3 separate regions of the Homo sapiens genome follow, and regions 1 and 3 are each linked to region 2. The links come from fine-mapping of genetic effects on gene expression. A gene starts in region 2. Each other region holds a variant in brackets. All regions are shown on one strand. Distances are from middle to middle.

Evidence for each region. PIP is the estimated chance that this variant, and not a neighbour inherited with it, causes the effect.
Region 1: its variant is the best candidate, but not a certain one, in a credible set for the expression of STAP2 in skeletal muscle (GTEx, PIP 0.58).
Region 3: its variant is the best candidate, but not a certain one, in a credible set for the expression of STAP2 in tibial artery (GTEx, PIP 0.65).

Annotation. Positions count from the first base shown.
Region 1 is chr19:4,250,950-4,261,683 of GRCh38, forward strand. YJU2 (YJU2 splicing factor homolog) reads left to right here. Exons shown (of 8, transcript NM_018074.6): 3 at 78-222; 4 at 3,406-3,540; 5 at 7,293-7,474. Among named protein-coding and RNA genes, the nearest start is that of YJU2, 9.2 kb to the left of the region's middle. The variant T/G (reference allele first, on the strand shown) is at 6,689.
Region 2 is chr19:4,332,649-4,343,382 of GRCh38, forward strand. STAP2 (signal transducing adaptor family member 2) reads right to left here and starts at 6,179. Exons shown (of 13, transcript NM_001013841.2): 1 at 6,004-6,179; 2 at 1,325-1,396; 3 at 1,046-1,168. The coding sequence starts at 6,105. RefSeq lists enhancers at 9,826-9,945, 9,966-10,697.
Region 3 is chr19:4,227,823-4,238,556 of GRCh38, forward strand. It overlaps EBI3 (Epstein-Barr virus induced 3), which reads left to right and starts at 1,701. Exons shown (of 5, transcript NM_005755.3): 1 at 1,701-1,795; 2 at 3,369-3,501; 3 at 5,307-5,485; 4 at 6,845-7,002; 5 at 9,114-9,706. The coding sequence starts at 1,729. The coding sequence ends at 9,266. RefSeq lists enhancers at 1,921-2,010, 2,974-3,475. The variant A/C (reference allele first, on the strand shown) is at 5,751.

The DNA of each region.
Region 1 (10,734 bases), 82 kb before region 2:
CAGGATGCCGCAGGGACAGCCTGCCAGTGGGAGCCAGCGTCCCAAGACAGCTCACATCCCTACATGCTGCCCCGCAGGTGTAAGACGTGCGGAGAATACATCTACAAGGGGAAGAAATTCAATGCTCGGAAGGAGACGGTGCAGAACGAGGTCTACCTGGGCCTGCCCATCTTCCGCTTTTACATCAAGTGCACGCGCTGCCTGGCAGAGATCACCTTCAAGGTAGGTGAGACGGCCGGCCAGGCCGGTCCCTCTCCCCCAGCACACCTCAGATCAGGGCGGGCCCTGGGGTTCCTTAACTCCAATCCTCTCCATCCAGGGAATCTCATTTCAGTTTATCCCCAAGAAACAGACAACAGTTTGGGGGAGATGTTCATGGCAGCATTCTAAATAAAGGCAAAAAGACAGAAGCAACCTAGATAGATAATAATAAGGGATGAGAAGAACAAATTAGCATGCAGGCTGGGCATGGCTCACACCTGTACTCCCAGCACTTTGGGCGGCCAAGGCGGGCAGATCACCTGAGGTCAGAAGTTCAAGACCACCCTAGCCAACATGGCGAAATGCCATGTCTACTAAAAATACAAAAATTACTGGGCATGGTGGCGGACTATAATCCCAGTTACTCGAGAGGCTAAGGCAGGAGAATCACTTGAAGCTGGGAGGCAGAGGTTGCAGTGAGCGAAGATTGCACCGCTATACTCCAGTCTGGGTGACAGAGCAAGACTCCAACTAAAAAAAAAAAAAAAAAAAGCCAGGCACAGTGGCTCATGCCTGTAATTCCAGCAGGTTGGGAGGCCAAGGCAGGAAAGAGAGCCCCTGAGGTCAGGAGTTTGAGACCAGCCTGGCCAACATGGTGAAACCCCGTCTCTACTAAAAATACAAAAGTGAGCCAGGCGTGGTGGCTCATGCCTGTAATCTCAGGTACTTGGGAGACCAAAGCAGGAGAATCGCTTGAACCCGAGAGGGAGAGGTTGCAGTGAGCCAACATTGCGCCATTGCACTCCAGCCTGAGCAACGAAATGAAACTCTGTCTCAAAAAGAAAAAAAAAAGTAGCGTGCAATGGAATATTACACAGCCAATAAAAATTGCAATTTGACTTTTATTTGTTACCTTGAGAATTTAAGGAAAGACTGAAGATAACTTAAAATTTTCTCTTCCTATGCTTAAGTACTCTTTGAATACTTTTTTGCCATAAGCTTTTTTTCTTTGATTAAAAAAACATTTTGGGCTGGGCGCAGTGGCTCACAGCTATAATCAGCACTTTGGGAGGCCAAGGCAAGTGGATCAGTTGAGGTCAGGAGTTCGAGACCAGCCTGGACAACATGATGAAACCCCAACTCTACTAAAAAAAAATACAAAAATAGGCCGGGCGCAGTGGCTCACGCCTCTAATCCCAGTACTTTGGGAGGCTGAGGCAGGCGGATCATGAGGTCAGGAGATCGAGACCATCCTGGCTAACACAGTGAAACCCCGTCTCTACTAAAAAAAAAGCAGAAAAAAATTAGCCAGGCGTGGTGGCGGGTGCCTGTAGTCCCAGCTACTCGGGAGGCTGAGACAAGAGAATGGCGTGAACCCAGGAGGCGGAGCTTGCAGTGAGCTGAGATCGCGCCACTGCACTCCAGCCTGGGCGACAGAGCGAGACTCCGTCTCAAAAATAAATAAATAAATTAATAATAATAATAATATTTTGGCTGGGTGCAGTGGCTCACGCCTGTAATCCCAACACTTTGAGAGGTCAAGGGAGAAGGATCGCTTAAATCCAGGAATTCAAGACCAGCTTGGGCAACATAGTGAGATCCCGTCAGTACAAAAAAATATAAAAATTAGCTGGGCATGATGGCATGCGCCTATAGTCCTAGCTACTTGGGAGGCTGAGGCAGGAGAATCAATTGAGTCTGGGAGGCCAAGGCTGCAGTGAGCCATGATTTCACTGCTATACTCCAGCCTGAGTGACAGAGTGAGACCCTGTCTGCAAAAAAACAAACAAAAACTTTTTTTGAAATACCTGAAGATTTACAGAAAAGTTCCAAAGATAGTACAGATAATTCTCACCTACCCCCTCACCAACTTCCCCGAATATTAGCATCTTATATAACCAGGGTACATCTGTCACAGTAAGATACTAAGGGTGGGGCCAGGCATGGTGGCTTACTCCCAGCGCTTTGAGAAGGCAAGGCAGGAGGATTGCTGGGGACCAGAAGTTCAAGACTAGCCTGGGCAACATAGTGAGACCCTGTCCGTGTCTACACACACACACACACACACACACACACACACACACACAAATTTTAATTAAAAAAAGAAACTAAAGGTGGAATGTTACCATTAACATTGTAGGCTGTGGCTGGGTGCAGTGGCTCATGCCTGTAATCCCGGCACTTTGGAGGCCAAAGCAGGAGGATCGGTTGAGTCCAAGAGTTAGAGACCAGCCTGGGCAACATGGCGAAACCCTGTCTCTACCAAAAAGAAATTTAAAAATTAGCCAGGTGTGATGGTGCATACCTGTAGTCCCAGCTACTCGGCAGGCTAAGGTGAGAGGATTGCTTGAACCCGGGAGGCTGAGGTTGCAGTGAGCCATGATCCTGCCGCTGCACTCCGGCCTGGGCAACAGCACGAGACCCTGTCCCCAAAAAAATAAAAAACATAGTGTTACTATTAGCATTTAGACCAAAGGTAGATTTCAGTTTTTCTGCTAATGTCACTTTTCTGTTCCAGTGTGTAATTTAAGATACCAGGGTGTATTTAGCCTCTCTATTCAATAAACAAAAACAGGGGCATGCTGTATACATATTTGTACATGTGATTTATAATCAAAGAAAAGGTGTTAATAAATACAAAGGGCAGAAATCACAACATGTGCAGAACCTTGGAGATTTTTTTTTTTTTTTGAGACAGGGTCTCACTTTGTAGCCAAGGCTGGAGTACAGTGGTGTGATCTCAGCCTCCCAGGTTCATGTGATTCTCATGCCTCAGCCTCCAGAGTAGCTGGGATTACAGGCATGCACCACCTTGCCCTGCCTAATTTTTTGTATTTTTAGTAGAGACAGGGTTTCTCCATGTTGGCCAGGCTGGTCTTGAATACCTGACCTCCAGTGATCCACCTGCCTCATTGGAGAGTTTGTTTGCAGTCATGTTAAGGGTAGGGAGTGGAGGATGCAGGGAGGCAGTGGGCAGATGAGAAGAGTCTTAAAGTCCATGCCAGGGAGTTGGGCATTTTTGCCCATGGAGATGGGAGGAGCACTAGGAAGAAATCTCACCAGTCAAAGCAATAAGACAAGAAAAAGAGAAGGTAGTAGAACCAGTAAAAATCAGAGAGAAGGGGCCCTGATCTGCTGGTGGTACTTTAGAAGATTCTAGTGCCTGGGGATGTAGGAGCTGATGTCTGTCTATCCTCCCTGCAGACAGACCCTGAAAACACAGACTACACCATGGAGCATGGAGCCACGCGGAATTTCCAGGCTGAGAAGCTCCTGGAGGAGGAGGAGAAGAGGGTGCAGAAGGAGCGGGAGGACGAGGAGCTGAACAACCCCATGAAGGTGAGTCGGGGGCCATGTAGGTGTTCATGGGCGCTGTGTGTGTGGGTGTGTGTGTGTGCCAATGGTTGTGCCCTTCCTGCCTCAGGTCCCCAAGGAAGGAAGATGGGGTGGGGGGCGTGGTTGGTAAAACTTTAAGATGTCCCCAGGAGGCCAGGCATAGTGGCTCATGCCTGTAATCTCAGCACTTTGGGAGGCTGAGGCGGGAGGATCACTTGAGGTCAGGAGTCCTAGACCAGCCTGGCCAATGTGGCGAAACCCTGTTCCTACTAAAAATTTTAAAACTTAACACTGGGCGCAGTGGCTCACACCTGTAATCCCAGCACTTTTGGAGGCCGAAGTGGGTGGGTCACGAGGTCAGGAGTTTGAGACCAGCCTGACCAACATGGTGAAACCCCGTCTCTACTAAAAATACAAAAATTAGCCAGGCATGGTGGCACGCTTCTGGAATTACAGCTACTCAGGAGGCTGAGGCAGGAGAATCGCTTGAACCGGGGAGGCAGATGTTGCAGGAAGCCGAGATGGCGCCACTGCACTCCAGCCTGGGTGACAGAGTGAGATTCTGTCTCCAAAAAAAAAAAAAAAAAATTAGTCAAGCATGGTGGCGCATGCCTGTAATCTCAGCTACTTGGGAGGCTGAGGCAGGAGAATTGCATGAACCCGGGAGGCAGAGGTTGCAGTGAGCCGAGATCAAACCACTGCACTCCAGCCTGGGCAGCAAAGCAAGACTCTGTCTCAAAAAAAATAAATAAATAAAAGAAATTATGTTCACTTCCAATAGGACAATTTTGTATTTTCTCAGAAATATTAAAAGGAGCCATGCATGGTGGCTTGAACCTGTAGTCCCAGCTACTTTAGGGGTTGAGACAGGAGGATCACTTGAGTCTAGGAGTCAAAGACCAGCCTGGGCAACATAGTGAGACTCTGTCTCTATAAAACATTAAAAAATTAGCCAGGTGCTTGCCAGGCGTGGTGGCTCACACCTGTAATCGCAGCACTTTGGGAGGCCAAGGCAGGTGGATCACAAGGTCAGGAGTTCAAGACCAGCCTGGCCAAGAGGGTGAAACCCCGTCTCTACTAAAAATACAAAAAATTAGCCGGGCATGGTGGCAGACACCTGTAATCCCAGCTACTCGGGAGGCTGAGGCAGAGAATTGCTTGAACTCAGGAGGCAGAGGCTGCAGTGAGCTGAGATCATGCCACTGCACTCCAGCCTGGGTGACAGAGCAAGATTCTGTGTCAAAAAAAAAAAAAAAAAAAAAATCAGCCAAGTGCTTTGGGAGGCTGAGGCAGGCGGATCACCTGAGGTCAGGAGTTCAAGACCAGCTTGGCCAACACGGCGAAACCCTGTCTCTACTAAAAATACAAAAATTAACCAGGCGTGGTGGCACGCGCCTATAATCCAAGCTACTCAGGAGGCTGAGGCAGGAGAATTGCTTGAACCCAGGAGGCGGAGGTTGCAGTGAGCCAAGATCGCGCCATTGCACTTCAGCCTGGGCAACAAGAGTAAAACTCTGTCTCAACAACAACAACAAAAATTAGGCAGGTGTACTGGTGTGCACCTGTGGTCCCACCTACTAGGGAGGCTGAGGCGGGAGGATCACTTGAGCCCAGGAAGTTGAGGCTGCAGTTAGCTATGATCACATCACTGCACTCCAGCCTGGAAGACAGCAAGACTGTCGCAAAAAAAAAAAAATATATATATATATATATATATATATGTACACACACATATACATATATATACATACACATATATATATAAAACAGATTTTTAAATGACTGTGTTCCCTGCTGTCCCCTCCTGCTTCCATATTTCCCATCCATTCTTATCTATTCCTGGACCCACCCACCCCTGCCAAATGTGAGTTTTCTGAGCAAGCCACATCAGACCAGATACAACATTTTCCATGGCCATGCAGAGCAACAGGGAGGGAAATGAGCCTTGGCAAGGGTTTGGTGTGTGCCTGGGCCTGTCGCACTGCTGTCTGTGTGTGAATTTAGTTACCTCCACACTGACAGCAAGGGGCTCTTACCCTGGTGTTAGTCAGCTATTGCTACATAACAGGTTATCCCAAAACTTAGTGACTGAAAACAACAAACATTTATTATCCCACAGTTTTTGAGAGTCAGGCATCCAGAAGCAGCTGAGCTGGATGGTTGTGGCTTGGGGGCTCCCATGAGGTTGCAGTCAAGGTGTTGGCCAGGGCAGTATCATCTGAAGGCTGGACTGGGGCTGGAGGAGCCACTCGCAAACTGGCTCCCTCTACTGGCTGTTGGCTGTCAGCCTCAGTTCCTCGCTGTGTGGGGAGCTGCTTGAGCAACCTCACAACATGGCAGCTGCGTACCCCAGAGCATGTGACCCAAGAGTGAGAGCAAGGAGGAAGGCCTGTGCTTTTACATCCTAGTCTCAGAAGTTACGTGCCATTATTTCTGTCATATTCCATTAGAGCAAGTAGCTTGTCCAGCCCCTGCTCAAGGGGAGGGGAGTCACCTCCACCCCTTAAATGGAGGAGCATCAGAGAGTTTGTGGACATACTTTTAAACTGTCAGAATTGCCATTTTTCCAAAGGGTAAATACAACAAGGTCACAGCACTGGGAAGCAGCCAGGCAGGATTCACTCCCAACCTGCCTGGCTCCAAAGCCACTTCTCAGGGACCCGTGGCCACCAGACTCGCCTCCCTCAGCCTCAGTTTCCGTTTCTGTAAAATGGGGGTTGTGAGGATTAAATGAGATGGCATATGGAAACCTCTTAGCCCAGGGCCCGGTGTACAGTAGGTGCTCAGGTTGTCTTTTACAATTTTTCCTTAATATTATTATTTTTGAGATAGAGTCTCGCTCTGTCACCCAAGCTGGAATGCATTGGCACGATCTGAGCTCAGTCAACCTCTGCCTCCTGGGTTCAAGTGATTCTCCTGCCTCAGCCTCCCAAGTAGCTGGGATTACAGGTGTGTGCCACCACGCCTGGATAATTTTTGTATTTTTATTATTTATTTATTTTTTTGAGATGGAGTCTCACTCTGTCACCCAGGTTGGAGTCCAGTGGTGCAATCTTGGTTCACTGCAACCTCTGCCTCCCGGGTTCAAGCAATTCTCCTGCCTCAGCCTCCCAAGTAGCTGGGATTACAGGCACATGCCACTACGCCCAGC[T/G]ACTTTTTGTATTTTTAGTAGAGATGGGGTTTCGTCATGTTGGCCAGGCTGGTCTTGAACTCCTGACCTCAAGTGATCTGTCTGCCTCGGCCTCCCAAAGTGCTGGGATTACAGGCGTGACCCATAACACCCAGCCTGTATTTTTAGTAGAGACAGGGTTTCACCATGTTGGCCAGGCTGGTCTCGAACTCCTGATCTCAGGTGATCCGCCCGCTCCGGCCTCCCAAAATGCTGGGATTACAGACGTGAGCCACTGTGCCTGGCCAAATTTTTCCTTATTATTCTTACTGAAAGATGGCACCAGGCCAGAAATCCAGGCCACCTGGGTCCAGAGCCAGCCTCTTTCCACCCCACCCTGCCCCAGGGCTCAGATCCCGGCTCCACCACTGCTCAGCCCCATGTGGTCACTTTCCCTCCCCAGACCTGAGTGTTCTCACCTGTGAAATGGACACAGCGCTGGGCATGGGCAGGGGGTTCCCTGAGCAGGATGGAAACGTGGGGGTAGGGGTTCCTCCCGTGGCCCGCAGTGGCCCCCGAGGCCAGACAGGGTTTGCCCCGTGGTGCGATCCCCATGCACTCAGCCCCGCCGCCCCGCGCCCGCCAGGTGCTGGAGAACCGGACCAAGGACTCCAAGCTGGAGATGGAGGTGCTGGAGAACCTCCAGGAGCTGAAAGACCTGAACCAGCGGCAGGCGCACGTGGACTTCGAGGCTATGCTGAGGCAGCACCGCCTGTCGGAGGAGGAGCGGCGGAGGCAGCAGCAGGAGGAGGACGAGCAGGAGACCGCGTGAGTCAGGGCCGGCCCAACCCAGCCCCACCTCGCAGCCTCTGCCCCGGCAGGCGCTGCCTCTGCCCCAGACCCTTTCCCCGCTCTCTGGAGTGTCGCCTTTGCAAGGACCCCTTTCCCACCGCCCATCTCACTTTCTCCCTTGTGGCGTCTCTCGAGGGGGTCCCAGGCCACTGCCGGGCACGGTGACTTAGCACGTGGTCGCCCGCATGGCTGCGGTTTGTCACAGCGAGAGGACACAGCAGATTCAGCAAAGGGGAAAGGCATGTGTGGTGTGTCGGGGGCCAGGCCTTCCAGATCCTCTCCTGGTGGAGCTTCGCAGGACGCGCCTCATCCCCTAGCACCAGCCTGGAGGACTCGAGAAAGGCGCCATCACTAGGGAAGCTCCTAGAGACCCAGCGTGGGGTTCCTATGGGGCCTGGTCCCACAGCCCCCGCTGCCTCACCCATGCCGGGATTCCAGACTCCAGAGGAAAGCAGGGGTCACGCATAAACCATGGTGTTTGCAGGAACAGCTGAAGCCCCAGAGCCCGTCCCATCCATGAGGGTGGGAGGCCCCCAGCACAGGCTCCCGGACACCCACCAAGGGACGCCCTCACCAGCCGCCTTCTGAGGACACAGCCTCAGGCCTCCTGGGTGAACACTTTTCTTTTTTTTTTTTTTTTTTTTTTTTTTTTTGAGACGGAGTCTCCCTCTGCTGCCCAGGCTGGAGGGCAGTGGCGCCATCTCGCTCACTGCAAGCTCCGCCTCCCGGGTTCATGCCATTCTGCCTCAGCCTCCCGAGTAGCTGGGATTAGAGGCATCCGCCACCAAGCCCGGCTAATTTTTTGTAATTTTTAGTAGAGATGGGGTTTCACCGTGTTAGCCAGGATGGTCTCGATCTCCTGACCTCGTGATCCGCCCGCCTCGGCCTCCCAAAGTGCTGGGATTGCAGGCGTGAGCCACCGCGCCCGGACGACGCTTTTCTTTTTCTTTGAGACGGGGTTTTGCTCTGCCGCCCAGGCTGGAGTGCAGTAGTGCAGTCATAGCTCACTGTAGCCTCCATCTCCCGGGCTCAAGCGTTCCTCCTGCCTCAGCCTTCTGGGTAGCTGGGACCACAGGGACACATCACCATGCCCAGCTAATTGTTTTTATTTCTGTAGAGACAGGACCTCGCTATGTTGGACAGGCTGGTTTTGAACTCCTGGCCTCAAGCGATCCTCCCACCTTAGTCTCCTGAAGTGCTGGATGACACGTGTGAGCCCCTGTGGTTGGCTGGTGAATGCCTTTGACGCCGACCACCTCTGAGCCCGCGTGCTGATCCCCTCCTTTCCTGGTGCCTCATCTCCCCTCCCTCCTTTAGAATCTGAGCTGTAAGGACAGGGACGTGGTGGCCTCTCCTGTGTCCCCAGGGCTTCCAGCAGGTAGGTTCTGGTAGGTTCCACGTCAGTGCCTGATGGGTGTGCAGAGCAGCGATACCGTGCAGAACAGTGTTGGGAGCCTGCGTTCATCCTGCACCTTCCGGGTGCCGGGCGTGGCTGTAACCTCACTACCCACACAGCCCTGGGGGTCAGTGTGATCTTCATCATGGAGGGGACTGAGGTCCAGGGAGGTCCAGGCATGAGCCCCACCAAGGTTACCCTCCAGGCTCCATCCAGACAGGCTGGTTCCGGCATCCAGGCACTTAACCACACCACTGCCCTCGGTGGACACGGAAAAGTTAATGTAAAAAAGTAGAAGGGGCCGGGCGCAGGGTCTCCTGCCTGCCATCCTGCACTGTGGGAGGCTGAGGCGGGCGGATCACCTGAGGTCAGCAGTTCGAGACCAGCCTGGCCAACATGGCGAAACCCCATCTGTACTAAAAATACAAAAACAAATTAGCTGGGCGTGGTGGCAGATGCCTGTAATTCCAGCTGCTCCAGAGGCTGAGACAGGAGAATTGCCTGAACCCGGGAGGCAGAGGTTATAGTGAGCCGAGATGGTGCCACTGAACTCCAGCCTGGGCGACAGAGCAAGATTCCTCCTAAAAAAAATGAAAATTAAAAAGTAGACTAGGTGCGGTCGGTGGCTCACGCCCGTAATCCCAGCACTTTGGGAGGCTGAAGTGGGCGTATCACCTGAGGTCAGGAGTTCGAGACCAGCCTGGCCAAGATGGTGAAACCCCGTCTCTACTAAAACTACAGAAATTAGCTGGACATGGTGGTATGTGCCTGTAGTCCTAGCTAACATTTTTAATTTTTTTAGAGACGGGGTCTCGCTATGTTGCCCAGGCTGGTCTCTAACCCCTGGCTCAAGCGATCCTCCCGTCTCAGCGTCCCAAAGAGCTGGGATGACAGGCATGAGCCACTGCATCTGGCCCCTTTAATCTGTTTTATGTTTAAATAGAGGAAGTGGTAACCACTGGGTTAAGGAAGTCCCAATGGGTGCTCTGCCCTCACGGAGCTCACTGTGTGGGGAGGGAGAGGGACAAGGAGACCAATACCCAGGACAACATCCATCTGGGTGAGAGAGAAGCCAGGATGCGTGAGCTTGAATTATGAGGATGAGCTTCTCAGAGGAAGAGCGTCTTGCATTGGGTATTGAAGGTCGAGTAGGAGTTCACCAAGCGAGTGCTTGGCAAAGGGGTCATCCCAGGTAAGGGGATGTAGGCCCCTGATTTTTAAAATCCTTTTTGCAGAGATGCGGTCTTGCTGTGTTGCCCAGGCTGGTCTCATGCTCCTGGCCTTAAGCATTTCTCCTGCCTTGGCCTCTAAAGGCACAGGGATTACAGACATCAGCCACCATGTCTGGCCCCAAGACATTTTTCTAAAAGACATTTTCTTTGAAGCTATATCCCCTGATTAGAGTTCTCACACTGTGGTTCTCACATAAACCACTCCCAGAATTAGAGACCGGCCTGGCCAAGATGGCGAAACCCCGCCTCTACTAAAAATACAAAAATTAGCTGGACACGGTGGTGCGTGCCTGTAGTCCTAGCTGCTCGGTAGGCTGAGGCTGGAGAATCGCTTGAACCCAGGAGGCGGAGGTTGCAGTGAGCCAAGATCACGCCACTGCACTCCAGCCTGGACAACAAAGACTCCATCTCAAAAAAGAAAAAAAAAATACAAAAATTAGCCGGGTGTGGTGGCAGGCACCTGTAATCCCAGGTACTTGGGAAGCTGAGGCAGGAGAATCGCTTCAACCTGGGAGGTGGGGGTTGCAGTGAGCCAAGATTGCGCCACTGCACTCCAGCCTGGGCAACAGAGCGAGACTCTGTCTCAAAAATAAAATGAAATAAAATTT
Region 2 (10,734 bases):
ACTGGGTAACATAGCGAGCCCCCTGTCTCTACAAAAAAATAAAATATTAGCCAGGCATAGTGGCATGTGCTTGGCTGAGGTAGGAGGATCGATCGCTTGAGCCCGGGAGGTCGAGGCTGCAGTGAGCTATGATCTCACTACTGCACTCCAGCCTGGGCGACGAGCAAGACCCTGTCTCAAAATAAAATAATAAATAAAATAAAATAATAGAAAAACATAGATCAGTTCCCAGACCTCTCATGCTCTAAACCCTCCCATAGGCCAGCCACCGTGACTCATGCCTGTAATCCCAGCACTTTGGGAGGCCGAGGTGGGTGGATCACTTGAGGTCAGGAGTTCGAGACCAGCCTGGCCAACATGGTGAAACCCTGTCTCTACCAAAAATACAAAAATTAGCTGTGCGTGGTGGCACACGCCTGTAATCCCAGCTACTCGGGAGGCTGAGGCAGGAGAATCACTTAAACCTGGGAGGCAGAGGTTGTAGTGAGCCAAGATTGCACTACTGCACTCCAGCCTGGGTGATAAGAGCGAAACTCAAAAAATAAAAATAAAAAATAAACCCTCGGCTGGACACGGTGGCTCACGCCTATAATTCCAGCAGTTTGGGAAGCCGAGGTGGGTGGATCACCTGAGGTGAGGAGTTCCAGGCCAGCATGGCCAACATGGTGAAACCCCATCTCTACTAAAGATTCAAAAAATTAGCCAGGAGTGGTTGCGTGCGCCTGTAATCCCAGCTACTTGGGAGGCTGAGGCAGGAGAATCACTTGAACCTGGGAGGTGGAGGTTGCAGTGAGCCAAGATCGTGCCATTGCACTCCAGCCTGGGTGACAGGGCGAGACTTGGTCTCAAAAAAAAAGTAATAAAATAAAATAAAATAAACCCTCCCATAGCACCCAGCTCCTTTGGGGTCAAGACCCAAGTCTTACCCAGGGCCCACAGGGCCCTGTACTACCTGCCCCTTCGTGGTTGGCACAATGGAGGGTAGGAGCATTTGAGCATCTTCTGCAAGCACCGCCCCTCTGCACCCCTCCAGCAAGGGACCTACCTTGAACTTGATCTCCTGATCCCGGAGAATCAGGCTGAAGTGGGTGCCAGGGTCACGTGAGCTTCCCCAGGGAATCTCATCTGTGAGTTTCTCAAATGCTCCCAAGTTGAGCTTCTCCACGTGCTGGGGGCATAGAAGCAGGGGATCTGGGCACCAGTTCCTTGGCCTCCAGGCCCCCTGGATGATGTAGCAGCCACCTTGACCACACCATCTACATTGTCTGCTTGGTCTCTGGGCTCAAGGGAAGGCCTGCTCTGGAGCCTCCATTCCCATCCTTACCTGGAAGTCCCGATTGCTATTGTAGAAATAAATGGTGAGACCCTGCAGGCCTGCCCAGAACTTCTTGTAATCCTAGGGACCAGAAGTGCAGAAAGAAGAGGTGAGCTGGCCAAGCTGAGTGCCTTTCATGTACTCAATCCTGTCTCGGGGCCTTTGCACTGGTTGTGCTCTCTGCCCCACGCTGCCCCCAGATCTTTATTACCTCCTGCCTTGAGTTTCTGATCAAATGTACCTTCTCAGGGAGATCCTCCCCACCCATGGCCCAGCTTCTGGGTGTCTGTTTTCGTCTGAGAAAGGACCAGACGGAACCTCGATGTGATGAGGGATTCAGAGCAACCCCCGCCAATCTATAGAGATGGGTGCTCTAGGGGTAAGTTAACTAACTGGTTTAATGGTATCCCATTCATCTTTCATCATCCAGCTACCCACTAGCCATCTATCTATCATCCATCTGTCCATCCGCCCACCCACCCATTCATCCATCCACCTACCATTGACCCATCCATTCACCCATTCATCCATCCATCCATCTGCCCACCATCCATCCACCAATCCGTCCACCCACCCACCCATCCACACATCCATCCATCCAGTTATTCATCCACCCACCCACCCATTCATCCATCCACCTACCATTTACCCATCCATTCATCCATTCATCTATCCATCCACCCACTCATCCATCCGTCCATCACCCCCATCCATCCATCTATCCATCATGGAGCCATTCATCATCCATCCATCCAGTCATTCATCAATACCTACATCACCCACCATCCATCCAGTCATCCATCCACCCACACATCCATCTGTCCACCCATCCATCCATCCCTCCATCATCCATCCACTCATCCATCCACCCACTCATCCATCCATCCACTCATCTATCAATGCATCCCTCCATCCATCCACCTACTCATCCATCCATCCACCCATCCATCCATCCCTCCATAATCCATCCATCCATCCACTCACCGTCCATCATCCATCCACCCACTCATCCATCCACCCACTCATCCATCCACCCACTCATCAATCCATCCACCCATCCATCCACCTATCCATCCATCCCTCCATCATCCACCCACCATCTATCATCCATCCACCCACTCATCCATCCACCCACTCATCCATCCATCCATCCATACATCCATCCACTCATCTATCAATGCATCCCTCCATCATCCATCCACCTACTCATCCATCCATCCCTCATCCATCCATCATCCATCCATCCACTCATCCCTCCATCATCCATCCACCTACTCATCCATCCATCATCCATCCATGCATTCATCCATTCACCATCCACCCACCCACGCATCTTCCCGTTCATCCATCCATACATCCCTCCATCGTGCATCCACCTATTCATCCATCTATCATTCATCCATGCACTTGTTCATCCATCCATCATCCACCCACCCACCCGTCTGCCCACTCATCCATCCATCCACTCCCCCATCCATCCATCCACCCACTTGTATATGCACTCATCCATCCACCCACACATCCTCTCAGCCACCATCAAGCCCGCATGTATTCACCAAGCCTCCACTCATCCCCCCATCTACCCATCCACCTGTCCATCCGTAGACACAAGCACAGATACACACATGCATTTACCTAACATTTACTGAAGGCTTTTTATGTGCCAGCCCTGCTCCAGGCACTGGGACTAGAGCAATACAGGATTAAACACTGTATTGCTTCATTATGTACCCACGATGTGCTGTTGGGCAAGTTATTTGAGCTGTCTTTGTCTGTTTCCCCAGCTGTAAAATGGTGATAATAATGGTGCCAACTCTGGAGGATCTCATGAGAATTAGGTGACTTTCCACATGGGAAGCACCAGGGCCTGCGTTGAGTCAAGTCCTCAACACGTGAACTGTGACTACAGCCCTAACTCCCTATTTCAGAAGACAGAAAACTAAGGCTCAAAGATTAAGTCACTTGCATAAGGCCTGGGAGTAAGGAAAGTGTGGAGCCGGGATTAGAACCTGGGTCTTCTTAATTCGGGCCCATGATCTTTTTTGTTTTGTTTTGTTTTGTTTTTAAGAGACAGAGTCTTGCTCTGTCGCCCAGGCTGGAGTGCAGTGGTGCGATCTCGGCTCACTGCAACCTCCACCTCCCAGTTCGAGCCATTCTCCTGCCTCAGCTTCTCAAGTAGCTGGGATTACAAGTGCGCACCACCACATCCAGCTAATTTTTGTATTTTTTAGTAGAGGTGGGGTTTCACTATATGTTGGCCAGGGTGTTCTCGAACTCCTGACCTCAAGTGATCCGCCGGCCTCGCCCTCCCAAAGTGTTGGGATTACAGGCGTGAGCCACTGCACACTGCCTTTTTTTTTTTTTTTTTTTTTTGAGACAGAGTCTCACTCTGTCACCTAGGCTGAAATGCGGTGGCACCATCTCAGCTCACTGCAACCCCCCCGCCCCAGTTCAAGCAATTCTCCTGCCTCAGCCTCCCGAGTAGCTGGGATTACAGGTGCACACCACCACGCCCAGCTATTTTTATTTTTAGTAGAGATGGGGTTTCATCATGTGGCCAGGCTGGTCTTGAACTCCTGACCTCAAGTGATCCTCCCACCTCGGCCTCCCAAAGTGTTGGGTTACAGGCGTGAGCCACCACGCCCGGCCCCCATTATCTTTCTTTTCTTTTTTTTTTCTTTTTGTTTTTGAGAGCAGTCTCGCTCTTGTCCCCCAGGTTTGAGTGCAATGGCTTGATCTTGACTCACTGCAAACTTCGCCTCTCAGGCTCAAATGATTCTCCTGCCTCTGCCTCCCAAGTAGCTGGGATTAAGGCGCCTGGCACCATACCCAGCTAATTTTTGTATTTTTTAGTAGAGACGAGGTTTCACCATATTGGCCAGGTTGGTCTTGAACTCCTGACCTCAGGTGATCCGCCTGCCTCGGCCTCCCAAAGTGCTGGGATTACAGGCGTGAGCCACAAGCCCGGCCTCCCCCATTATCTTTCTTAACTGCAGTGATCTACTGGCTCTAAAGGGTTTGTTGGTTGGGGAGGATTTGGATGTATGGAGGTAGAAGGAAAGTCTACTCCACTACAGGTAAGGGAACCTCAGGGGCAGAGGCGGGGACATGGGCAGGGAGGAGCTGGGGGTGTTTGTTTTGATCTGTATTAGAAAATGAGGCAGTCATGGTGGCTCACACCTCTAATCCCAGCAGTTTGGGAGGCTGAGACAGGAGGATCACTTAAGGCCAGGAGTTTGAGACCAGCCTGGGCAACATAGCAAGACCCCATCTTTTTTTTTTTTTTGAGACGGAGTCTTGCTCTGTTGCCCAGGCTGGAGTGCAGTGGCACGATCTTGGCTCACTGCAACCTCTGCCTCCCAGGTTCAAGTGATTCTCCTGCCTCAGCCTCCAGAGTAGCTGGGATCACAGGCACGCACCACCACGCCCGGCTAATCTTTGTATTTTTAGTAGAGACGGGGTTTCACCATATTGGCCAGGCTGGTCTCAAACTCCTGACTTCAGGTGATCCACCTGCCTCAGCCTCCCTAAGTGCTGGGATTACAGGTGTGACCCACTGCGCCTGGCCAGCAAGACCCCATCTTCAAAAAAAAAAAAAAAAGGCTGGGTGCGGTGGCTCATGCCTGTAATCCCAGCATTTAGAGAGGCCGAGACAGGTGGATCACCTGAGGTCAAGAGTTCAAGACCAGCCGGGCCAACAAAATGAAACACTGTCTTTACTAAAAATACAAAAATTAGGTGTGGTGGTGCGTACCTGTAATCCCAGCTACTCGGGAGGCTGAGGCACGAGAATCGCTTAATCGTTTGAACCTGGGAGGTGGAGGTTGCAGTGAGCCGAGATGGTGCCACTGCACTGCAGCCTGGGTGACAGAGTGAGACTCAGTCTCAAAAATAAATAAATAAAATAAAAGCCAGAAGAGGCAGTGCATGCCTGTGGTCCCAGCTACTCAGGAGGCTGGGGCGGGAGGTTCACTTGAGCCCAGGAGTTTGAGGCTACAGTGAGCCATGATCGTGCCCCTGCACTCTAGCCTGGGTGACAGAGCAACTCTGTCTCTAACAAAAAGAAAGAAAGAAAATGAATATGCGGCATTGGGAAGGAGAGATAGGGCCTCACGGGGAACGGAGGGGCTGGGACTTTATTCTGAGGGAGACATAAGCACACACACACACACACATGCACGCACTGTCCATGGCAACTATCTGTCCTGTGGAATGTGGCCCCCGCTAGCTCTTACTGTCCTCACATGTCACCTGTCCTGGCCTTCGCCCCAGCAGCTGAGGTTCACGGAGTTTTTCCTGGGCTGGGAGCGGGAGGAAGCTCGGGAGTCAGAGGACTCCCCATTTCCTGGAGGAAGTCCCTGATCTTGTTTGTATTCAAGAGAGTGAACGAGAGACAAAAGCAAAGATTGAGACAAAGAGAGAGGGAGACTGAGACAGACATCGGGAGAGACAGACGGGGCCAGGGAGAGAGAAAGAGAAAAAGAAACCAAATTCAAAGACACACGGAGACAGAGATAGACGCACAGAGAGGCAGATGGCCAGAACCCACCCCAGTCCCCCAGCACGTGTCCTGCCCCATCCAGCACCCACCCCGCCCCCCCTTGGCGAGTGGGGAGACAGGGACTCAGAGAGGTGCCGCAGCTCCCCACGGTGGCCCAGCAGGGCCAGCCCCCGCCTCCCCACCTTACCCGGTCACAGGGCCCCTTCTTCTCTAGAAAGCTCTCATAGTAGTGTGAAGGCAGGACACCCTTAGGCTTGGGGACACGGGGTGGCCTCAGGGCAGAGGCCATGACGGAGCCAGGGTCTTCCGCCTGGCCTCTCCTTCCAGTGGGTGCCCCAGCTGGGCCGGGAAGCTGAGAAACAGGTTTCAGGGGAGTTTCCTGTGTCAGCCCGTCAACTCCCTCCCCTGCCAGGGCTGGGCAGAGGCTGATCCCAGCAGGTCCAGTGATCCTAGGGAAATCCCCGCCTCTCCGGTGTGGAACTGAGAACAGAGAGAATGTATAAGTCTACTTGAATGGGAGAATAATCTTCGCTATATCTGCAAAGACAGAGACATGGTCTGTCTCTTTATTTATTTATTTATCTATTTTTCCTATTTTGAGACAGAGTTTCACTCTGTTGCCCAGGCTGGAGTAAAGTGGTATGATCTTGGCTCACTGCGACCTCTGCCTCCCGGGTTCAAGAGACTGCGCTGCCTCCCGGGTTCAGAGACTGAGTCCAAGCTCAGTCTCCTGACTAGCGTGGATTGCAGGTGACCGCCACCACGCCTGGCTAATTTTTGTATTTGTAGTAGAGACGAGGTTTCCCCATGTTGGCCCAGGCTGGTCTCGAACTCCTGACCCCAAGTTTTCTGCCCGCCTCAGCCTCCCAAAGTGCTGAGATTACAGGCATGAGCCACCACACCTGGCCCTTTCTCTTACTTTGATGGACCCTAATGATTACATTGGGCCCACCTGGATAATCCACGCTACTCTCCCTATTTTAAAGTCAGCTGACTAGCAACTTTAATTTCATCTGCAATTTTTCTTTTTTAGACGGTGTCTCATTCTGTTGTCGATGCTGGAGTGCAGTGGCACGATCATAGTTCACTGCAGCCCTGACCTCCCAATCTCAAGCGGTCCTCCTGCCTCAGCCACCCGAAGAGCTGGGACTATAGGTGGGCACCACCACACCCAGCTAATTTATTTTCCTTTTTTAAGGATGAGTTCTCACTATGTTGCCTAGGCTGGAGTACAGTGGGGCGATCATGACTCACTGTAGCCTCGACCTTACAGGCTCAAGTGATCCTCCAGCCTCAGCCTCCAGAGTAGGTGGTACTACAGTTGCATGCCACCACACCTGGCTAATTTTTTTTTTTCTTTTTTTTGAGACAGACTCTCGCTCTGTAGCCCAGGCTGGAGTGCAGTGGCGTGATCTCGGCTCACTGCAAGCTCCGCCTCCCAGGTTCATGCCATTCGCCTGGCTCAGCCTCCCAAGTAGCTGGGATTACAGGTGCCTGCCACCACGCCCAGCTAATTTTTACACTTACTAGAGACAGGTTCTTGCTATGTTGCCCAGGCTGGTCTTTTTTTTTTTTTTTTTTTGAGACAGAGTCTTACTCTGTCACCCAGGCTGGAGTGCAGTGGAGCGATCTCGGCTTACTGCAACCTCTGCCTCCCAGGTTCAAGCAATTCTCCTGCCTCAGCCTCCCGAGTAGCTGGGATTATAGGCACGTGCCACCATGCCCAGCTAATTTGTTTGTATTTTTATTTTAGTAGAGATGGAGTTTCACTGTGTTAGCCAGGATGGTCTTAATCTCCTGACCTTGTGATCCACCTGCCTCGACCTCCCAAAGTGCTGGGATTACAGGCATAAGCCACCGTGCCCGGCCCTCAGGCTAGTCTTGAACTCCTGGGTGCAAGTGATCCTCCAGTCTAGGCCTCCCAAAGTGCTGGGGTTACAGGTGTGTGCCACTGTGCCTGGCGTCTATCTTTAATCTTCAAATCCCTTTGCCACGTATCCTAACGTATTCACAGATTCTGGGAATTAGGGCGTGGATATCTTTAAGAGACCATTATTCTGCCTACCACAGCCTGTTTAATATGGTGGACAATTGATTAATTTTGAATACTGAATCAGTCTTGGGTCCCTGGAGTAAACCCCACTTGTCATGGTGTATAATTCACTTTATATATTGTTAAATTCTACTTTGTAATATTTTGTTAAGGATTTTTGCACGTCTTCATGAGGGATATGGGGTGTAGCTTGCTTTCTTTGTACCGTCTTTATCTGGTTTTGGTATCAGGGTCATAGTTCCATAAAATGAACAGGGAAGTGTCCCCTTCAATTTTCTGGAAGAGATGATGTGAAATTGGTGTTAATTCTTCTTTGAACCTTTGGCAGAATTCCTTAGTGAAACCATCTGGGTCTGGAGATTGCTTTTTTGGGAGTTTTTAAATTACAAATTCAATTTCCTTAGTAGTTACCAGGGCTAGACTTTGTATACATAGCAGAACAGGTGTTCTAGAAATCACAGAAAGGCCGTGGGACTGTGGCAATGTGTTCATCCACTGAACTGTCTGATAAAGTTGATAGTATCAGCTATACTAAGTAAGGTCAGAGAGTTGATTTTTGTTTCGTTTTTTTGTTTGTTTGTTTTTTCAGACAGGGTTTTGCTCCTTTTGCCCAGGCTGGAGTGCAGTGGCATGATTTCGGCTCACTGCAACCTCCGCCTCCCGGGTTCAAGCGATTTTCCTGCCTCAGCCTCTGGAGTAGCTGGGATTACAGGTGCCTGCCACCACCCCCGGCTAATTTTTTTGTTTTTATTAGAGATGGGGTTTCACCATGTTGGTCAGGCTGGTCTTCAGCTTCTGACCTCAAGTGATCCCAAAGTGCTGGGATTACAGGCGTGAGCCACTGTGCCCAGCCAGGGTGGTTAGTTTTTATTGTATTTGTCTAAGGCAATGTGGAGCGACAGAAGGATTTACAGCATGAGAGGAGGGCAGGGTGCGGTGGCTCACGCCTGTAATCCAAACACTTTGGGAGCCCAAGTGGGAAGATTGCTTAAGGCCAGGACTTGGAGACCAGCATGGGCAACATAGTGAGATCCCCTTCTTTTACAAGAAAATTAAAAATTAGCCAGGCATGCTGGTCACGCCTGTTGTCTCAGCTACTCTGGAGGCTGAGGCAAGAGGATCATTTGAGTCCAGGAGGCCAAGGCTGCAGTGAGCCATGATTACACCAATGCACTCCAGCCTGGGAGATAGAGCAAGGCCCTGTCTCGAAAAGAAAAGAAAATAGGCTGGGCGCAGTGGCTCACACCTGTAATCCCAGCACTTTGGGAGGCTGAGGCAGGTGGATCACCTGAGGTTGGGAGTTCGAGACCAGCCTGGCAAACATGGTGAAACCCCTTCTCTACTAAAAATACAAAAATTAGCTGGGTGTGGTGATGTGCATCTGCAGTCCCAGCTAATTGGGAGGCTGAGGCAGGAGAATCGCTTGAACCTGGTAGGCAGAGGTTGTAGCGAGCCAAGATCTTGCCACTACACTCCGGCCTGGGTGACAGAGCGAGACTCCGTCTCAAAAAAAAAAAAAAAAAAAAAAAAAAAAAAAGAAAAAAGAAAAGAAAAGAAAACAAAATAATAATATGGGAGGGAGGTGGTAATAGGTGCATTTTAGAAAGAGCCCTCTGGGGCAATGGTGGAAGACCGACAGGGTGGGGCATGAGTTTGGAGGCCTGAGACTCACTGCGATGGCCAGGATTTGGGTGCAAGAGGCTGGAGGTGTGGCTCAGGGTTTTGGAAGGCAGGGGACGGAAAAAAAGCCAAAGAGAAAGTGCGTAAGGAGTTGGGGAAATAAACTGAGGCCGGTTTGGGCTATGCTGAGTCTGCAGGCCTTGGGGATGCCCGTTGTTGGCTGGACAGTCAGGGTGGGGCCCCTAAAGGGTGCCTGGGCTGGACAACAATAGTTCACATGTACCCAGCTCTTGCTCTATGTCAAGTCTTCTTCCTGAGAACATTCCCGAGCACCCTGGAGAGCCTCCCCCGCACCCCTACTGTCCAGTTCCCACTTCCCGACTGCGGTCTGGGCAAAGCCACCCGCACTTGAGCCCATCCCACGGCGTCCCGGAGCTTTAGGAAGTCCCCATCCCGGACTTTCAACCCTGCCAGGGACTGAGGGAAATCCCAGAGCCTGGGCTCCGGGACGAAGGTCCCAGGACAGGGTCGGGGATGTAGTTGCAGAAACAGGGTAGGGGACAAAGGCCGGGGCTGCACTGATCAGGCGCGCAACGAGCCCGGCCCTGCCTCCTGCTCCGCCCAAGGGTATGGAGGGCCGGACTCGGCTGGCCTTATACCCGGAGCTGATTGGCTGGTGAGTCCAGTCCCTGCCTCTGATGGTTTGCGCTCATAACTAAGGGTTTCTACTGATTGGTTTACATGGACGTCTGCCCATTGGTCAAATCCGAGTTGGTGTAATCAGATAGTTGACACGGATTGGTTGGTGCGGGAATCCAGTAGCTTGCTATCGATTGGTTGAGGGTGAAATAAATGGGACTCTTATCATTGGCTGGCGGGCTCCGCAACGGTCCAATCATGGAATCAGTCGAGGGCCGCCCGGGAGGGTGGGAGTTAATTCTTTAGCGACTGAGGCCGGCTTGGGCTCTTTGGCTCCACCTGTGTCTGCGCGAGGCTGTTCCCTATTGGAGTCCGCATTGTTCCCCTGGACCTGAGTTTCTCCCCTGGTCCTAAAGGCCGAGGCCTCTGAGTTCCTCAAGTGCGGTGACCGCAGGTCTCACCTTCTCCTCTCCTTGCAGCAGGCTGAGCCACTCGCGCACCCGCCCCAGGCTTCCACCTTGCAACCTCTATCCCTGGACAGCGAGGCCTCAGTTTCCCCATTCGCACCAATGAGCTCCCGGTCAACACCCCGTCACGCCTCAGTTT
Region 3 (10,734 bases), 100 kb before region 2:
TGTCTCTGTCTCTCATCTTCCCATCTGTGTCTCTCTTTCTCTGTCTTCCTCCCTTATCTCTGTCTCTGTGTCTCTCTCATTTCCCTATCTCTGTCTTCCTCTCTTATCTCTGTCCCTCTGTCTCTCTTCCTCTGTCTGTCTGCTCTCTGTGTTTCTCTTTCTGTTTCCATCATCTCCCTGTCTCTCTCTGTCTCTGTGTCCTCCTCCTCTCATCTCTGTCTCTGTCTCTCTCATTCCCCTGTCTCTCTCTGTCTCTATCATCTCCCTATCTATCTCTGTGTCCTCCTCCTCTCATCTCTGTCTCTCTCTGTGTTTCTGTCTCTGTCATCCCCCTTTCTCTGTCTCTGTCATCTCCCTGTCTCTCTATCTCTGTGTCCTCCTCCTCTCGTCTCTGTCTCTCTGCCTCTCTCATCTGTATCTCTCTCTGTCTCTGTCATCTCCCTGTCTCTGTCTCTCTCTATCTCTGTGTCCTCCTCTCATTTGTCTCTCTGCCTCTCTCATCTGTATCTCTGTCACTTTCTCTGTCATCTCCCTGTCTCTCTATCCCTCTATCTCTGTGTCCTCCTCTCATCTGTCTCTCTGCCTCTCTCATCTGTAGCTCTCTCTGTCTCTGTCATCTCCCTGTCTCTCTATCCCTCTATCTCTGTGTCCTCCTCTCATCTGTCTCTCTGACTCTCTCATCTTTGTCTCTGTCTCTGTCTCTGTCATCTCCCTGTCTATCTCCGTGTCCTCCTCCTCTCATCTCTGCCTTTCTCATCTCTGTGTCTCTCTCTGTGTTTCTGTCTCTGTCATGCCCCTTTCTCTGTCTGTCATCTCCCTGTCTCTATCTATCTCTGTGTCCTCCTCCTCTCATCTCTGTCTCTCTCATCTGTATCTCTCTCTGTCTCTGTCGTCTCCCTGTCTCTCTATCTCTTTGTCCTCTTCCTCTTGTCTTTCTCTCTGCCTCTCTCATCTGTGTCTCTCTCTGTCTCTGTCTCTGTCATCTCCCTGTCTCTGTCTCTCTCTCTCTGTGTCCTCCTCCTCTCGTCTCTTTCTCTCTGCCTCTTTCATCTGTGTCTCTGTGTCTCTCTGTCATCTCCCTGTCTATCTCTGTGTCCTCCTCCTCTCGTCTCTGTCTCTCTGCCTCTTTCATCTGTGTCTCTCTGTCTCTGTCTCTGTCATCTCCCTGTCTCTGTATCCCTCTATCTCTGTGTCCTCCTCTTCTTGTCTCTGTCTCTCTGCCTCTCTCATCTGTGTCTCTCTCTGTGTCTCTGTCTCTGTCATCTCCCTGTCTCTCTGTGTCTTCCTTCTGTCTTCTCTGTCTCTCTGCCTCTCTCCCCCATCTCTGCCTCTGTCTCCCTCCATGTCCCTGAGCCCCTGCCTGCCTGCCTGGGGTTTCCCCCGCTTCAGGGCAGCGGAAGGAAGGCCAGCAGGACATGCTGTGCTGGGAAAAGCCAGCAGGTCTCCACTTCTCCCTTTCACAGCCTCCTCCCCCGCCCCCACCCTCGGGGCCTTCCGAGCAGGGGTGGCCTGTGCTCCCCAGGGGGCTGGGGCTCCTCCACACCCTAATTCATCTCCCTAGCGGCCCCACGAGCCCCACCAGTGAGTCAGACCTGAAGGAAGTCGGGGAGGGGGCGGGCCTTGACCCTGGGCTGGGCTTTCCCCTGGGCAGGTCCCAAGTCCTCACCTCCCCTCTCAAGTCTCCCACGACGTTCCCACCCACTCCTGAGAGCAGAGCTGGCCGCAGCCATGACCCCGCAGCTTCTCCTGGCCCTTGTCCTCTGGGCCAGCTGCCCGCCCTGCAGTGGAAGGAAAGGTATGTGGGGCCCCTGGGGGACTGGGGGGCCCAGGCAGACGGACATGACACGAGGACTGGCCTCGGATCATGTCTGGGGTGGGAAATCACATCCTCCCGTGCCCAATGGTGGGATGGGGTTACCCTCCCATTGTACAGATGGAGGAACTGAGGCACAGAGAGGCAGAGTGCCACATTGGGGGTGGAAGGATGTCACCTTGTGGGTGATAGGGACTGGCAGTCACAGCTCAGAGGTATCCATAGAGCTACACAGACATAGCTACACAGACATGCGAATTTGAGTCACACTCATTCCTTTGGTTTCTTTTTGGTTTTGTTTTTTGAGACAGAGTCTCACTCTGTCGCCCAGGCTGGAGTACAGTGGCACCATCTCAGCTCACTGAAACCTCCATCTCCTGGGTTCAAGCGAGATTCTCCTCCCTCAGCCTCCCGAGTAGTTGGGATTACAGGTGCCCGCCACCATGCCCGGCTACTTTTTATATTTTTAGTAGAGATAGGGTTTTACCATGTTGGCCAGGGTGGTCTTGAACTCCTGACCTCAGGTGATCCACCCACCTCGGGCTCCCAAAGTGCTGGGATGACAGATGTGAGCCACCGCGCCCGGCCGACATTCATTCATTTTGCACTAGAGAACATCTCCATGTCCTTGAAGACAAAATGGTTACAGCAGGGCATGGTGGCTCATGCCTGTAATTCCAGCACTTTGGGAGGCCAGGGCGTGAGGATCGTGAGGCCAGGAATTCGAGACCAGCCTGGGCAACATAGTGAAACCGGACCCCACCAATCTGTACAAAAAATTAAAAAATTAGCTAGATGTGGTGGCACGTGCCTGTAGTCCCAGCTACTTGGGAGGCTGAGGTGGGAGGATAATTTGAGCCCAGGAATTGGAGGCTGCAGTGAGCTATGATTGTGCCACTGCATTCCAGCCTAGGTGACAGAGTGGGATACCTTGTCTCAAAATAATAATAATAATAATAATTTATAGGCTGGGTTTGGTGGCTCACGCCTGTAATTCCAGCACTTTGGGAGGCCAAGGCAGGTGGATCACCTGAGGTCAGGAGTTTGAGACCAGCCTGGCCAACATGGTGAAACTCCCTCTCTACTAAAAATACAAAAATTAGCCAAGCGTGGCAGTACATGCCTGTAATCCCAGCTACTCGGGAGGCTAAGAATCGCTTGAACCCGGGAGGCGGGGGTGGCAGTGAGCCGAGATCTCGCCACTGCACTCCAGCCTAGGCGACAGAGGGAGACTCCCTCTTTAAAAAAAAAAAACAATTACAAAAGAGAGAACACGGTAAAATCTCTCTCTCTTACCCGAGTTCCTCTCTGTAGATGCTTAAACCTCAGCTTCCCTATCTGGAAAATGGGCTAGTAGTCCTCACCTAGATGGATTGCAGTGGGGATAAAAGATGACAGATGACTTTTGTCCATGTACCTATTTATTCCGAAAGCCTTTATTAGGCACCTACCATGTACCTGGTGCTGGCTGGCAACGTGGCAGGAGCCCAGCGCACGGGAGGGCTATGACAATCTGGGGGTAAACCAGAAGCTCACTCTTTCTGTCTTCCTCCAGGGCCCCCAGCAGCTCTGACACTGCCCCGGGTGCAATGCCGAGCCTCTCGGTACCCGATCGCCGTGGATTGCTCCTGGACCCTGCCGCCTGCTCCAAACTCCACCAGCCCCGTGTCCTTCATTGCCACGTACAGGTCGGAGAGCCTGGAAGGGGGCCTCAGGGACACTGGACTTCCTGGAGAGCCCAGAACTCTGGCCCTGAGAGCCCTGGGGTCAGGAAAACTGGAGACCCCGACATCCTGAACCCCAGGCCTATGGAATTCTAGGGCGGCCCCGTCCAATAGAAATATACTTTCTGGGCCAGGCACAGTGGTGCATGCCTGTAATCCCAGCGCTTTGGGAGGCCGAGGTGGGCAGATTGCTTGAGGTCAGGAGTTTGAGACCAGCTTGGGCAACGTAGTGAGACACTGTCTCTACGAAAAATTTTAAAAATTGGTCAGGTGCAGTGGCTCATGCCTGTAATCCCAGCTACTCCGGAGGCTGAGGCAGGAGAATAGCTTGAACCCAGGAGGCGGAGGTTGCAGTGAGCCAAGATGGCACCATTGCACTCCAGCCTGGGCAACAGAGCAAGACTCCATCTCAAAAAAAAAAAAAAAAAACTACTTCCTGGGTTGGGCACAGTGGCACATGCCTGTAATCCCAGTACTTTGGGAGGCTGATGTGGGAGGATCACTTGAGGTCAGGAGTTTGAGTCCAGCTTGGGCAAAATAGTGAGACCCTGTCTCTAAAAACAATTTTTAAAATTAGCTGGGCATGGCCAGGCGCGGTGGCTCACGCCTGTAATCCCAGCACTTTGGGAGGCCGAGGTGGGCGGATCACAAGGTCAGGAGATGGAGACCACCCTGGCGAACACGGTGAAACCCTGTCTTTACTAAAAATGCAAAAATTTGCCAGGTGTGATGGCACGCGCCTGTAGTCCCAGCTACTCGGGAGGCTGAGGCAGGAGAATTGCTTGACCCAGGAGGTGGACGTTGCAGTGAGCCAATATTGCATCGCTGCACTGCATCCTGGTGATAGAGTGAGACCCCGTCTCAAAAAAAAAAAAAAAAAAAAAAAGAAAAGAAAAGAAAAGAAAAGAAAAGAAAAAATTTCGAAAAAGAAAAAAAAATTAGCTGGGCATGTTGGTACTTGCCTGTAGTCCCAGCTACTCTGGAGGCTGAGGTGGGAGGATCACTTGAGCCCAGGAGTTTGAGACCAGCCTGGGCAACATAGCAATATCCTGTCTGTACTTAAAATCAAAAAAATTAGCTGGATGTAATGGCACACATCTGTAGTCCCAGGTACTTGGGAGGCCGAGGTGGGAGGATCACTTGAGCCCAGAAGTTCAAGACCAGCCTGGGCAACATACTGAGACCCCCCCCCATCTGTAGAAAAAAAATTTAAAATTAGCCAAGAGTGGTGATGCGTGCCTGTAGTCCCAACCGCTCTGGAGGCTGAGACAGGGAAGATCCCTTGAGCCAGGAGTTCAAGGCTATAATGAGCTAGGATCATGCCACTGCACTCCAGCCTGGGCGCCAGAGGGAGACCCTGTCATGAATGAATGAATGAATGAAGGGATGAATTAATGAATGAATGAAGGAATGAATTAATGAATGAATGAAGGAATGAATTAATGAATGAATGAACGGATGAATGAATGAATGAATGGATGGATGAATGAATGAATGCTGACATCCCAGAAACCTTTAGAATCCCGGACCCTAGCATCTAGCTTGGGTTGTAATCCCCGACCTGAACCATCAGGGGCACCGTGATGTTGGGGCCCATGCCCTGCCCCCGGGGGGTGGCACGGCCACCACCAGGACCCCACCCCGGGATCCCCATCCGCTGCCCCCTCCTGTTCCTGCCTCTCCTTGGGGTCCCGGGTCAGGCCCGGCAGTAGGAGGTGCTGAGGCCACAGGCACTCCCTGAGGCGCTCAGCGAGCCCCACCCTGTGCAGGCTCGGCATGGCTGCCCGGGGCCACAGCTGGCCCTGCCTGCAGCAGACGCCAACGTCCACCAGCTGCACCATCACGGATGTCCAGCTGTTCTCCATGGCTCCCTACGTGCTCAATGTCACCGCCGTCCACCCCTGGGGCTCCAGCAGCAGCTTCGTGCCTTTCATAACAGAGCACATCAGTGAGTGGGGGCGGCAGTGGGGGCGGGGGCGGGGCTGCCGTCTCCTTCCAGCTCCCCCCACCCCACCTCCCACCTGTCCTCCAGTCCTGCGGCTGCACCTTCACACTTAAGCAAAAATCTGACCCCTTCTTCCCCCTCCTCTACCAGTACGTGGAGCACCCCCATCATTGACAGCCCAGTCCCCTCCATCCTGAGCCCTGGCCTCCACAGTCTGTCCTTCCCACAGCAGCCACCAGAGGGCGCCTGAGAGCACCTGAGTCAGGGC[A/C]CGTCCCTCTGCCTACAGCCCTCCATGGCTCCCACCTGCCTTGGGGTCAAAGCCCAAGTCCTTCCTACTGCCCACCAAACCCTGGACAACCTGCCCTGTCTCCTCCATGCCCTCCCCTCCTCCCTGTCTCCCCCTTGCTCACTCTGCTGTGGCCACATGTGATTCCTTGATGTTCAACATGCCAGGAATAGTTCTGCCCCAGGGCCTTTGCATGGGCGGTGCCCTCTACCTGGAACACCTTCCCCCAAATGTCCCCATGACTTATTCCCTCACCTCCTTCGGGTCTCTGTGCATACATCACCTCCTCAGTAAGACCTCTCCTGAGTAGATTATTAAAAATTGCAAGCTCTGGCTAGGCTCAGTGGCTCACACTTGTAATCCCAGCACTTTGGGAGGCTGAGGCAGGCCGATCACCTGAGGTCAGGAGTTTGAGACCAGTCCTGGCCAACATGGTGAAACCCTGCCTCTACTAAAAATACAAGAATTAGCTGGGCATAGTGGCAGGTGCCTGTAATCCCAGCTACTCAGGGGGCTGAGGCACGAGAATCACTTGAACCCAGGAGGTGGAGGTTGCCGTGAGCTGAGATTGTGCCACTGCATTCCAGCCTGGGCGAGAGAGCGAGACTCTATCTCAAAAAACAAAACAAAACAAAACAAAAATTGCGGCCACTGCCATTCCTGCACTCCCCAGCTTTCTTCCCTATTCTGTGTGACCTATGGATTTGTTTATTTCCTGTCTTCCCCCTGATGGATTGTGAGTTCCATGAGGACAGGGGTAGGTCAGTTAAGGTCACTGTTTTGTCCCCTCTGTGGCAGCCCCAGGCACACAGTTTCTCAATAAATATTTGTTGGTTGAGCCAGGCATGGTGGCTCACAACTACTCGGGAGGCTGAGGCAGGAGAATCGCCTGAACCTGGGAGGCAGAGGTTGTAGTGAGCTGAGATCACGCCGCTGTACTCCAGCCTGGGTGACAGAGTGAGACTCCGTTTCAAAACAAACAAAATATATACATAATATGTTGGTTGAATGAATGAGTGAATGAATGAATGACTGGACTTACTGTCCCCTGACCCTGCTTCCTGCTTGTCCGTCAGTCAAGCCCGACCCTCCAGAAGGCGTGCGCCTAAGCCCCCTCGCTGAGCGCCAGCTACAGGTGCAGTGGGAGCCTCCCGGGTCCTGGCCCTTCCCAGAGATCTTCTCACTGAAGTACTGGATCCGTTACAAGCGTCAGGGAGCTGCGCGCTTCCACCGGGTGAGGAGGATGAGGGGGAGGCTGGAAAGGGTGGTGCCTGGCAGAGGGAATGGTTTTTACCAAGACTAGCAGGTGTGCTGGGCTCTTGCACATAGCTTGCGATTCCGGGTGCATTGAATAAGAGCAGTCCAGCAATCTGATTCCTAGGCCTCTACCGAAAAGGATGGAAAGCAGGGACTTGCACAAGCTGTCGCACACCCGTTTTTGTTGTTATTGTTTTGAGACAGAGTCTCGCTCTGTCGCCCAGGCAGTGACACAATCTCGGCTCACTGCAAACTCCGCCTCCCAGGTTCAAGCGATGCTCCTGCCTCAGCCTCTGGAGTAGCTGGGATTACGGGCACGTGCCACTATGCCCGGCTAATTTTTGTATTTTTAGTAGAGATGGGGTTTCATCATGTTGGCCAGGCTGGTCTCGAACTTCTGATCTCAGGTGATCTGCCTGCCTCGGACTCCCAAAGTGCTGGGATTACAGGCGTGAGCCACCGAATTGTTCACTTTATTGATTGATTGATTGAAACAAGGTCTAGCTCTGTCACCCAGGCTGGAGTGCAGTGGCGCGATCTTGGCTCGCTGAAACCTCCGCCTCCCAGGTTCAAGTGATTCTCCTGCCTCAGCCTCCTGAATAGCTGGGACTACAGGCGCCCACCACGCCCGGCTAATTTCTGTATTTTCAGTAGAGATGGGATTTTGCCATGTTGCCCAGGCTGGTCTCAAACTACGGAGCTTAGGTGATCCACCTGCCTGGGCCTCCCAAAGTGTTGGGACTACAGGTGTGAGGACTTCATCTGGCCAGAATTAGCCATTTTAAAGTGAACAATTCTGGCTGGGCAGGGTGGCTCACACCTGTAATCCCAGCACTTTGAGAGGCCAAGTTGGGAGGATTGCTTGAGTCCAGGAGTTGGAGACCAGCCTGGGTAACATAGTGAGACTCCCATCTCTACAAAAAATTTAAACATTAGTTGGGTGTGGTGACACACACCTGTACCCCCAGTTACAAGAGGCTGAGGTGGGAGGATCACTTGGGCCTGGAAGATTGAGGCTGCAGTGAGCCGTGTTGGCACCACTGCCTTCCAGCCTGGGTAACAGAGAGAGACTCTGTCTCCCAACTTAAATAAATTAAATAAAATAAAAAGCACGGTTAGGCTAGGTGCAGTGGCTCATGCCTGAAATCCCAGCACTTTAGGAGGCCAAGGCAGGCAGATCACTTGAGGTCAGGTGAAACCCCATCTCTATTAAAAATACAAAAATTGGCCTGGCGCGGTGGCTCATGCCTGTAATCCCAGCACTTTGGGAGGCTGAGGCAGGCAGATCACGAGGTCAGGAATTCGAGAACAGCCTGACCAACATGGTGAAATCACAGCTCTACTAAAAATACAAAAATTAGCCGGGTGTGGTGGCGGGCGCCTGTAATCCCAGCTACTCAGGAGGCTGAGGCAGGAGAATGGCTTGAACCCGGGAGGTGGAGGTTGCAGTGAGCTGAGATCATGCCACTGCACTCCAGCCTGGGTGACAGAGTGAGACTCCGTCTCAAAAACAAACAAACAAAAATTAGCCAGGCATGGTGGCGGGCGCCTGTAATCCCAGCTATCTGGGAGGCTGACGTGAGAGGATGGTTTGAGCCTGGAGGCAGAGGTTGCAGTAAGCCAAGATTGCCCCACTGCACTCCAGCCTGGGCAACAGAGTAAGACTGTCTCAAAAAAAAAAAAAAAAAAAAAAAAAGCATGGTTAATATAGTGGGACCAGGGGTAAAGGGAGGTATGGGGTCCTATCCCAGAGGTCCTGGTTTAGTCCCAGGGAGGAGAAAGAAGAGGATTATAGGGATCAGGGATGTCCTGATGAACAAAGACCCTCCTGGGTGAGACATCCACAGGGGCTAGTGTGGTCCAGGAAGGATTCGTAAGAGAGGTGGCTCTGGGGGCCACACAGACAGAGGCCGGGATTGGGAGGAGCCCATGATGCTATTTGGGGTGGGGCCGCACAGCTGGGGCCAGAGTCCTGGACTGGAGCCTGCAGGGGGCAGGGAGGACTGCACGCTCCGTTGTGTGGTTCTGTGCACAGTGGCCCCTCTCCATCTTCTGGTTCTAGTGACCTGACGCTCTCTCTTCTCTCAGGTGGGGCCCATTGAAGCCACGTCCTTCATCCTCAGGGCTGTGCGGCCCCGAGCCAGGTACTACGTCCAAGTGGCGGCTCAGGACCTCACAGACTACGGGGAACTGAGTGACTGGAGTCTCCCCGCCACTGCCACAATGAGCCTGGGCAAGTAGCAAGGGCTTCCCGCTGCCTCCAGACAGCACCTGGGTCCTCGCCACCCTAAGCCCCGGGACACCTGTTGGAGGGCGGATGGGATCTGCCTAGCCTGGGCTGGAGTCCTTGCTTTGCTGCTGCTGAGCTGCCGGGCAACCTCAGATGACCGACTTTTCCCTTTGAGCCTCAGTTTCTCTAGCTGAGAAATGGAGATGTACTACTCTCTCCTTTACCTTTACCTTTACCACAGTGCAGGGCTGACTGAACTGTCACTGTGAGATATTTTTTATTGTTTAATTAGAAAAGAATTGTTGTTGGGCTGGGCGCAGTGGATCGCACCTGTAATCCCAGTCACTGGGAAGCCGACGTGGGAGGGTAGCTTGAGGCCAGGAGCTCGAAACCAGTCCGGGCCACACAGCAAGACCCCATCTCTAAAAAATTAATATAAATATAAAATAAATTAGCCAGGTGTGATGTTGCGCGCCCACAGTCCCAACTACTTGGGAGGCTGAGGTGGGAGGATCACTTGAGTCCAGGAGGTTAAGGCTGCAGTGAGCTGTCGTCACACCACTGCCTTCATGCCTGGGCAACAGAGCAAGACCCTGGTTTTTTTGTTTGTTTGTTTGTTTGTTTTAATCATAGTTGAGGCCGGGTGCGGTGGCTCGCGCCTGTAATCCCGACGCCGAGGCGGGCAGATCACGAGGTCAGGAGTTCGAGACCAGCCTGACCAACATGGTGAAACCCGGTCTCTACTAAAAATACAGAAATTAGCTGGGCATGGTGGCCTGAGCCCGTAACCCCAGCTACTCAGGAGGCTAAGGCAGGAGAATCGCTTGAACCTGGGAGGCGGAGGTTGCAGTGAGCTGAGATTGCACCACTGCACTCCAGCCTGGGCAACAGAGCAAGACTCCGTCTCAAAACAAAAACAAAAAAAATAATAGTTGAAATGAAGACTCCAGCTGGGTATGGTGGCTCACGCCTGTAATCTCAGCACTTTGGGAGGCCAAGGCAGGTGGATCACTTGAGGTCAGGAGTTCAAGACCAGCCTGGCCAACATGGTGAAACCCTGTCTCGACTGAAAATACAAAAATTAGCCAGGCGTGGTGGTGGGTGCCTATAATTCCAGCTACTCGGGAGGCTGAGGCAGGAGAATTGCTTGAACCCGGGAGGCAGAGGTTGCAGTGAACTGAGATCGCGCCATCGCACTCCAGCCTGGGCGATGGGGTGACTAAGACTCCGTCTGAAAAAAATAAGGAAATGAAGACTCCTCTTTTCACTTAGAGGAGATCCAGCGAGGACTTAGCCCTAAACCAAAGGACACAGAAACCACAAATCCCCACTCCCATAGTGTCAGGGCTGGACCAGGGGACGTCATGGGCCTGGGGATGCCAGGGTGGGGTGGCAGGGATTCCGCCTGGAGTGGGACAGTAGAATCCATTCAGGGGCAGGTGCGGTGGCTCACGTCTGTAATCCCAGCACTTTGAGAGG